Regions from separate parts of the Homo sapiens genome. Here region 2 is linked to region 1. Evidence: fine-mapped expression QTL. Tissue or cell type: whole blood. Region 1 holds a variant in brackets; the other region holds the start of a gene. All regions are shown on one strand. Distances are from middle to middle.

Region 1 (5,148 bases):
ACACCAAGTACTTAGGAACCAGGTGACGGCAGAAGAATCTTTCAGTTGGGACTAAGAGTTCAAAAGGAGGTGGTGACTCAAAGAAGTAGGCATGAAGTCTATTACCATCCACACTAAAATAGAAAGACAATGGTATCAGGGAGTCTTAGGCTGTAAGATTAGGGATGTGAACACGTGACAAAAAGAGATAATGCCAGGTAAGGCAAAGGAAGGGGAAGCAGGAGAGGGAAGGGATGAGCAGCAAAGACAAATAAACACTACCCCCTGTTTGGGAGTCAGTTACTGACACTACACACAGACACAAACACATATACATCCCTCACAAAGACGTAAGACCGAAGCAACAGTGAGCCTTAGGTGACAGTAGGCTCTCCTGATCCTTTGGGACACTTACCAAACCCATCATTTGGGCACTGTACACTAGGAGAGAAGCCTGAGGCAGGACTGGGCTTGGTCAAGGACACTGCAAGACCAGCAATTCGGCTGGTTCTCCCTTTCAGCTTCTCCATTAAATCCCTGGAATAGGAAAGGAATTCCATGAAGGAACACAGGAAGGTATCAGACAGCCTGACATTCTGCCTGCAGGATGGAAACAAATGGGGAACTAGGGGAATCAAACTGTTGACTTATTTCTTCCCTTTCAGTCTCTAAATTCTGAGTCTGGACAATGATCTGCTCTAAAAAGTAGAGCTTTAGTGAGTAAGGACCCCAGGGAGGGAGGGGAGGGATGCCCAGGGTTACTCAGGGACAGGTAGGTGAAATTTAGCCCTAAGCTCAAGATCATTTCTTTTGATGGTACACCTTTCCTTCTGAGGACCACCCTGCCCTCTCCCCTGACCAGACCAGGGCAGCCAAGGGAAGTTTTCACTAATAAGTGTGAGGACTGTTCACTGAAACTTTCCCTCTATGGATGTTTTCCCAGCAGATACATCTAGTTCTTACCTGGTAAAATGCTTGCTCTCCAGCAGAACCATGTAAGGGGGGTTGGGGCCATCAGTCAATACCCACTGTAGGTCCTCCTCTTTCTCTACTACGTGGATAACCCCTGTGTCTCCACTAATTGAAGCTGCCAGGACAGAATGAGTCAAATTAAAGCTCCCATAGTTAACAATTCTGACTTTGCCTCACTGATTCTGCGTATCTTTTATCCCCTAAAGATGTCACAACATATTTGGGTGAATACAGGCACCTCTAGATTTGAACTGAAAAGCTGTTGCCCCAGCTCCATCTGAAGGTTATCAGGAGGGAATGGAATATAAAAGAGCACAAGAGGACTCATTATATGCCAGAAAGGTTCTGTGAACTTCATTTTTTTGCCCTCTGCCCTCAACCTTATTTAGCCATATACATAAGATTCTACAACAATAGACACCAAAGTTTTCAAACCTATATTTTCTCTAGGAAATGCCACTAAATCTCTAGCTCAGGGTTTTAGCTTTGAATCTTCCTTTGTAAAAACACATGCATACATGCCCTTGGCCTCAGGAGCTTTCCTGGATCGTCATTCCTTTTGCCCTTTTTGGGAATGACTTTACTTGCTTCTGGCCGGTTTTAGATGAGGTTAGTCAAGAACTCTGAGGTTTCTAAAACAGAGCTTCCCAATTGATAAGCCTCGAATGGATCAGAGATGTGCTCTCATTGGTTCTCCTCATTCCAGGAAACCTAGGGTTTCCAAAGTCACCTCCAGCCAGGAGCCTACTTATCATTTACCCCAGGATGCCCTGAAAATATCACCCATTTCTCTATGTGCCAGGATGCTATACAAATAACATTTTCTATGTGTCTCATGACATGATAAAGATTGGGAAGCACTGTATTAGAGGATGGATGACCCAGAGTCCAGAATACTTTGAATTCTACATAATTCAAGGCATTAGGTAATACTCCTTAAGTCCCCAGTGATCTGTGTGGAGATATCCTAGGGTCTCCCTGTGAGTCTTCTCCCTACAGAAAATTGGATATGTTATTCATCAATTATTTTAGACCAGTAGTTCTCAGCCCTGGCTGTATATCAGCATCACTTTAAATGCCCACTCAGCCTCCCAAAGTGCTAGGGTTACAGGAGTGAGCCACCATGCCCGGCCCTTGCCACAGCATTTAAAACATGGGAAAAGGAACAGATAGTGTGGCAACTAAAACATATATAACTTCGGCCGGGCACAGTGGCTCATGCCTGTAATCCCAGTACTTTGGGAGGCCGAAGTGGGTGGGTGGATCACTTGAGGTCAGGAGTTTGAGACCAGCCTGGCCAACATGGCGAAACCCCATCTCTACTAAAAATACAAAAATTAGCCAAGTGTGATGGTGCACACCTGTAATGCTAGCTACTCAGAAGGCTGAGGCAGGAGAATTGCTTGAACCTGGGAGGCGGAGGCTGCAGTGAGCTGAGATTGTGCCACAGCACTCCAGCCTGGGTGACATAGTGAGACTCTGACACACACACACACACACCCCAAAACTTCAACTCCAGCGAGGACAGGAAGACAAACTATGATACTGGACTGAAAAAAACCTGGATTCTAATCTGGGTTCCAACTAGTAATGGTGTAGTCTTAAGTAACTTGCTTATTTTCTCTGCGCCTTCAATGAGGTTTTCTACCTCTATTCATCTCATACTGTGGGGACAGACGAAAGAAGGAAGAAAGGATAGAAGGAGGGAGGGAGGGAAAAGAAACCTATTTAAAGCCCCCTTTGAGAACTTTAAAGCGTCTAAGAGAAGCAGAGTATTATAATCAGAAATCAAATCTGGGTATCACTTTTTTCTCCTTAGTTTTATCATGTTAGCTACACTAATTAAAAAGGGCGGAGCCTGCTCAGAAAAGACAGATATGACGAAGTAAGATTTGGAAATAAGTAGGTTGAAAAGGAACCAAGATCTTAATGAGGAAGTGGCCACAGTCCCGCTTACCCCCTCTTGTTTCTCTGTACTGGCACGTGGCTTTACCTCTAGAGGCTTTGCTTCCTACAGAGCTGTTTTAAGAACATAGAGTAGAATGACTTATTCCCAAAGGAGTTTTCTTAGAGCCTAGTTACAAGAGGTTGGGGTCCTGGCCTTCTGTACTTTATAGTGAGGTTCCAGCAAGACCAGCAGTCTGATCTCAGCCCACCCTGGACCTAGCTCTCTTCTACCTACAAACCAGTTCAGAAACTAAGTCCAGAGGGCTGGGCATGGTGGCTCATGCCTGTAAT[C/T]CCAGCACTTTGGGAGGCCAAGGCGGGCAGATCACGAGGTCAGGGGTTCGAGACCAGCCTGGCCAACATGGTGAAGCCCCGCCTCTACTAAAGATACAAAAAATTAGCTGGGCACGGTGGCACGCGCCTGTAATCCCAGCTATTCAAGAAGCTGAGACAGGAGAATTGCTTTAACCTGGGAGGAGGAAGTTGCAGTGAGCTGAGATTGTGCCATTGCACTCCAGCCTGGGCGAGAGGGCGAGACTGCATCTCAAAAAAAAAAAAAAGAAACTAAGTACAACAAAAACTTTATTTGGGGCTGTTTGGAACCAGTCAACCTACTCCCAGTGCTTTGTATAGCAGGGACATGGGACAATTAACAGATACTATAGCTCAGGGAAAGATGGCTAAAAAAGTAGTAACTGCTTCCACGAACAAGTCCTTCACTTCTCAGTGTCCCAGTTTTCTCTTATCAAATGGGAAGAAGGCTTCAGGAAATTATACAGCACTTTTGAGACCACCCTATTTACCTAGCGTCATCAATAAACAACTATTAAGAGGTATTTGACTTTCAGCTTTATGCAAGTACTCCAACCATTATTCCAGGGGTAAACTGAAATTCAGAGGTGATCAATTTGATGATGAAGAAGCCAGTATCAGACCCCAAGTTTCCTGCTTATCTGCAAAACTACATTCTGACAGAGCTATTGTCCATGGGAAACAAAATCTGAAGACAGCAGGTTAGCCTTTAGATTACTACTTTTCCTGCCCTATGATTTTGATAGTTTTTAAAGCCACAGTGTCATGGAACCTTCTTTTGGAACACACAAAGTGTGAAAATAAACGGCCTGTCAGTTGAATTTAAGGAAAAAAAGTTTTAAAAAAGGATAAATAGAATGCTTCACTAATTCCTCTTGCAATTATTCAGCATTTTCTTTTTTTTTTTTTTTTTTTTTTTCAGACAGTGTCTCACTCTGTCACCTATACTGGAGTATGGTGGCACAATCTCAGCTCACTGCAACCTCCGCCTCCTGGGCTCAAGGGATTCTTCTGCTTCCGCCTCCCGAGAAGCTAGGACTACAGGCATGCCATAGCAGCCAGCCGGCTAATTTTTGTATTTTTAGTAGAGATGGGGGGGTTTCACCATGCTGGCAGATTGGTCTCAAACTCCTGACCTCAAGTGATCCACCCGCCTTGACCTCCTGAAGTGCTGGGATTACAGGCATGTGCCACTGCGCCCAGCCTATTTGGCATTTTCAGTGCCTTCTCTTCAGATAGTTCATTGCCTTTAGCCCATTTTGGTTCCAAAAAGTTCAGAGTGCAAGTGATAACTGGACACCATAGAATATGAGACTTTTTTCTCCTTAAAAAACAGTATAATAGGGTGGTTAAGAGTGCTGGCTCGGCTGGGTGCGGTGGCTCACGCCTGTAATCCCAGCATTTTGGGAGGCCAAGGTGGGTGGATCACTTGAGGTCAAGAGTTCGAGACCAGCCTGGCCAACATGGTGAAACACCATCTCTACTAAAAATACAAAAATTAGCTGGGCATGGTGGCAGGTGCATGTAATCCCAGCTACTCAAGAGGCTGAGGCAGGAGAATCACTTGAACCTAGAAGGCAGAGGTCACCGTGAGCCGAGATCGTGCCATTGCACTCCAGCCTGGGGGACAAGAGTGAAACTCCGTGTCAAAAAAAAAAGGTCTCTCAGCTTAGTGCTCGGGCCACCAGATCCTGGCATCATCACTTATTACCAGTATGATCTTGGGAAAGTTACTCAACTTCTTTAAGTTTTAGTTTCATCATTTATAAAGTGACAATAACAGTAAGACCTATTTTGTGGGGTTGTGGTTGGGGTTGTATGAGATGCACATGTAAAAAGCTTGGTATGCAGCATTTACTAAATGTTAGTTCTTATTAATTATCTTGCCTAGCTTGACAGACGGTTATCTGTAACTGCCTACATACAGTCCAATATAAGTGT
Region 2 (5,148 bases), 140 kb after region 1:
AATGTTCACTTCAGTCCAAGAAGCAAAATGGATTACCTTTGGGCATGGGGACAAGGATTAGCCTTCAGCCCTTGGTCTAGAAAGAGCCAGACCCAAGATGGGGCATCAGGAGATAGCTGGCACTGGATCAGGCAGAGCAGAGGAGGGCCGGCTGATGGCGAGGAGGGGAATGGGGCCTAGGACTCTCCCCAGCCCATCTCTGTTTCCACTCTTCTGGTGTGGCACTCCCTGCTTCTATTTCTGTCTCTCTCCATCTCTCTCACTCTTTGTCATGCATTTCCTTTCTACTTCATCTTTCAGTCTCTCTTTTCCTCCTTTCTATAGGCTTTCACCCCTTCTAGCATTTCCTACTCACCTATCCAACTTAGTGGTAGCCATGAATACTTAGGACTCCTGAGATCTGTGCTTCACTGTCCCCATCTGAATATTCGGAGCTGCAATTAGGAAGGGGTGAGCATCCCTGCTACAAAAGACAGAGTAAGTTTGGTCGGAGTGGCTTGGAGATTCAGTGGTTGGCTGCCTACCAGCTGGTGAAGATATCCATCATGACATTGTGCGTGAGGATCTGTGTGAGAGAGTGAGGCGCTCTGTGATTCTGTGACCCTCTTCATGCATGATAATACATCCACACATGATGGGCACGGAATTGAGGAAGTAGGCAACCAGGGAAGCCTGCAGCCTAGGGCATCACTGGCAATTTCCCCAATGGAGTATTTAACCACAAAGGGAAGAGCAATTAAAGCTAATCGCTCTGACAGCCTGGGGCCCAGACACACGTACCACTTTCCCTAACTCCCAGTGGTCTCCCCCAACCTTCATCCTCCCTAATTTGTTTAGTGCACTCTCAAACACTGTTTGCACTTCTCTGACCATCTCTTTCTCTCACTTCCTCCCTCTCCCTGGTTCCCTGACTATCTCTAGACCTCTCTGGAGATGTCTGTCTGCTTCTCACACACATTCCTCTCATTCTCTCTCTGACTTGGGTTCCATTCTTGGCTGACTCATACCCATTCTTTTTCCTCTCCGTTTCTTCCACCCCCTCCTCCTCCATCCCTTGGCCACTCTTACCCAGAAACTAGCCACTCCCAGCACGCTAAGCCCTAACTGGACCCAGGAAGAGAAGCCACCAGAAGCCCCTACCCTCATTAGTCCGCAAAATCCTGTCTCCTTGTGTTAGAGGAATGAGACCAAGATTTTCTCCCATCTTTCCCCACAGTTTTAAAGAGGAACAATCTGAAACCATGGGGCTGGGAAAAGCTGCCAGAAAATCAGGATGGATTTGGGGACAGTGGCCCTTTCTGTCCACTCAGCTGTCCTGTCGGACTGATGACTTGGAGCCCGCAGTTCAGAAGACTCCTCATGGGATGCCCCACCCCACAGAGTGGGGGTGTGGTGGGCGGCCGGATGCGTAGTCCAGGGACGTTTGTGATTTGGAGTGTGCTAGACTATGTGTATAAGTCACATGGGTGTGTGTCACTGTGTGTGCTGGCGTGCCTTATAGGTGTGCGTGTTTCCCTGTCAGTTTTGACACGGATTATATGAAATTAATAAGGGTTTTTACGTTAGATATACATCACTTCTCTACACCCCCAGCTCCTCCTTCCCTCTGGACAAGCTTTCCGCCAAGCCCACCTCTTCCCCAGGTGCAGTGAGCTGGGGGTGAGGGCACATGGTACCAGCCGCCCGCGGAACCGAGACAGGGCTGGGCCGGGAGACCGCCAGCGGAGGCGAGTCCGAAGCCTGAGCGGGGAGGGAGGGGCGGGCGCTGGCCTGGCCGAGCCGGCTGGGCGGGAAGCAGGCTGCATCCTAATCCACAGGCCCCGGTCCGACTCCCAAACTGCCGTTCAGCGTGGAACGGGCTGGCCGGAGCCACGCCGCCTCCAGCACACGCTCGGCGCTCGGGACGCACCGACCGAGGGACGGACCCCGTGAGGCCTGACACAAAGTGGACTCGTCCGGGGTCCCCACACTCCCCGTCTGGCCCCCGGTGTCCCAGATCGTTGCCCCTCCAAGCCTAGACCCCGAAATCTGCCCCTTCCCCGCGACATGTCTCCTCTCCGCCCCTCTCACCGCCTCTGGAGCTGAGCGCTCAGGGCGCGGGCACTCCTGAGTCCCCGGTTCCTAAGCAGCGTCCGGAACCTCCTCCTCGGCTCCCGCCGCCGCCGCCGCCGCTTCTGCCGCCGCCGCCGCCTCTTCCGCCCGCGGAGCCGGAGCCCGAGCCCAGCGCCGCTCACTCCACCCGGCTGGCCGGTGATGTCAGAGCCGGGGAGGGGCGGGGGGCGGGGAATGGCGGGAGGAGGGGGAGGGATGGAGAGGCAGGAGGGGGCGGGGGACCGAGGGGCTGGGGTTCTGGAAGACTCCTAGGATGGGGGACAGAATTGGGCGGAGGGCTGGAGCGGAGACGGTCTCTTCCCCCTGAACTGCGAAACAATTCTCATATTTAATTCTTACCCAGTAGGGCACCCTCCTCCCCTTTTGACCTTTGGATGACCACGGTGCCTAGGACCCCTGGGAGGCACAGAGTAGGTTTGGTTTAGGGGGTTGGAAAGCCTTTGGGGGCTGGATTCTCTTAGCTGCTGGCTTTAATATTTGTAAAAACTTCTTGCCTTGCCTTAAGGGTCAGGGGCGCAGTGGAAAATGACTGATCAGACTTATCCACATTGGGAGTGAGGGGTTGGGGCCACATGGGGACTTGAGGAGCCCTGGATCTTCTCTTTCCAGGATGATGCCTTCAGGCCCTCTTGCGTGCCTCTCACCTTTCCCAAACATGCCCCACTCCTGCCTTCCCCCTACCATGATGTAATTTTATTTTCTGGGGAGAAAAAGAGCAGCAGTGAGCTCAGCATGCAAATATAGACAACTTGCAAAGCCACACTTAGCTCCATCTCCTAGCTCTGCCCCTCTGCCCAGGCCCAATGTGGCAGCTCTCACTTCCCCTCTACCCCAGGGACTTTCCTCCCCCAGATTCTCAGCCAGACTGAAAAGAGGAAAGGAAGAATTGGAGAAGCATCTGTTTTCACCCCCATCTCTATAGCCTAAGGGGTCTTGCCTCAGCTCTGGGCAGGGTTTGGCCCTGGAAAGAAGTCTGACCCTGGGTAGGTCCTTCCTGCCAGGAACTCCAGCAGGCCCAGGTTGGGGGATTCCCCTCAGTGTTTGTGCCACTTCCAGGATCACCCATCTCATCTCAGTTCCTACCTGGCAGAGACTCCTCCAGAAACCTCAAACGAGCCCCTCCTTTCTTGGGTCTACACCATTCCTAGAAGAGGCCCAAGTTCCTGCTGCTCTGGGTTTCATAGCATTTCTCTGCTGTTTCCTCTCCCCAGCATTCCCTGTCACACACTAATCATTTGCCTTTGTATATATCATGTTTGCTCTGTGTTGTAGGGACAAAAACTATTTCGTTGACCCATCTTTGAGACTCATGTAGTTTCTAAGTGAAAGGCTCAGGTCTGGAGGCAACAAGACACAGGGGCCTTGGGCTGCGTGCTAGTTCCACCCATTCCTTGGGCAAGTTATGCCTGAAAGCCTTAGTGTCCTCACCGGTCAGATCAGGGTGCCAATGTCTATTTCTGAGGGTTCTTCTGAGATTCAGAAATAGTAAGTCTCTAGGGACTGGCACAGATGGGTGCTTAAAAAATAGGAGCTATTATTTAGACCGGGGCCTTCCACTGACCTATGCTAGACAGTAAGCTCCACAATATTATTGTAAGACTAGCTTAGTGCCCATACTACTTATTAAACATTTATTAAATAGCTACAAGTTGGAATGAATACATAGTTTCTGCTTTCTACACCCCTGCCACATTCTCTAGGAACACTTCCTGGACTTGTCTGTGGAGAGTGAAAATATATCTAATCTCAGGTCTCATCTTTCCGTACTTAGAAATCCTCTAAGTCTCTCAGCAACAACTTTACACCTGATCCATGAAAAATATAATGTTGGCTTGGCGTGGTGGCTCACGCCTGTAATCCCAGCACTTTGGGAGGCTGAGGCAGGTGGATCACCTGAGGTCAGGAGTTCAAGACTAGCCTGACCAACATGGTGAAACCCCATCTCTACTAAAACTACAAAAAAGTTAGCTGAGTGTGGTGGTGGGCACCTGTAGTCCCAGTTACCTGGGAGGCTGAGATAGGAGAATCTCTTGAACCCGGGAGTCGGAGGTTGCAGTGAACCGAGATCTCACCACTGCACTCCAACCTGGCAACAGAGTGAGACTCCATCTCAAAAAAAAAAAAAAAAAAGAAAAAAATATATATATATACACACACATATATATGTATATGTATATATATATAATGTTTATTATTTATGGGCATCATCTCAAAAATATATATATAATGTTTATTATTTATGGGCTTGTTTAGCTATTTGTATATATTATATATATAAAATGTTTATTGTTCATGGGCATCATCTCAAAACTATATATGTATATGTTTATTATTTATGGGCTTATTTAGCTATTTGGCCCTCCCATCCCCAACTCCCTAAACTCCTTTTTGCTTACCCCAGCCTGGGCCTATTCTGGAAAGACTGTGGGTCCTTCTTGCCAAGACCTCCAGCAGGCCCAGGTCTGGGAGATCCCCATTGTATACAATATCTCCTCTCCATTCCCATGGCCACCACTTGGGTCCATGTTCTCCCAACATCACTCCAATTATTATAACAGTCACTGATTATGGGTTGGGCCCCTTACCTCTGGCATCTCCATCATCTCCCCTCCCCATCCTGCTTATCGCTACCAGATTAAATTTTGCCCTGCCTCCTCGGCTGGCAGGATTCAATTCAAACAGCTCTACAACCCAGCCCCATTATGCTTACCCAACTTCATGGCCACAACTTGATTTTTCTTCTTGTCTCTCTGGTCTCTGTGCCCCCAATATGACAAACATATCCTGCCAGTACTTGATGTTTTCCACTGACTGAAATGTCTCCTCCTCAGCTCCTTTGTCTCCAACCAAATCCCATTCTTCAATTTAAGGCCTAGTAAAGGCTTACTTCCTTTGTGAAGTCATCAAGCCCACTCTGATCTCTCTTCTGAGTTCATTCTGTTCTTTCCTTTGTTCTTCCTTTAGGAAACATTTACTAGGGACAACTTTTGAGTGTCAGACCCTGTGGACACAAAGAAAAAGCTTGGGTTCCTGCCT

The links. PIP is the estimated chance that this variant, and not a neighbour inherited with it, causes the effect.
Region 2: PEA15 starts here. The variant in region 1 is fine-mapped to the expression of PEA15 in whole blood (INTERVAL, PIP 0.93).

The regions. Positions count from the first base shown.
Region 1 is chr1:160,344,917-160,350,064 of GRCh38, reverse strand. NCSTN (nicastrin) reads right to left here. Exons shown (of 17, transcript NM_015331.3): 3 at 943-1,066; 4 at 395-516. Among named protein-coding and RNA genes, the nearest start is that of NCSTN, 4.1 kb to the right of the region's middle. RefSeq lists an enhancer at 3,198-3,247. The variant C/T (reference allele first, on the strand shown) is at 3,190.
Region 2 is chr1:160,202,445-160,207,592 of GRCh38, reverse strand. It overlaps PEA15 (proliferation and apoptosis adaptor protein 15), which reads right to left and starts at 2,209. Exons shown (of 4, transcript NM_003768.5): 1 at 2,071-2,209. It overlaps PEA15-AS1 (PEA15 antisense RNA 1), which reads left to right. Exons shown (of 5, transcript NR_123725.1): 3 at 1,217-2,255; 4 at 2,459-2,522; 5 at 5,077-5,148. RefSeq lists a silencer at 2,094-2,353 and enhancers at 2,504-2,553, 2,904-3,003.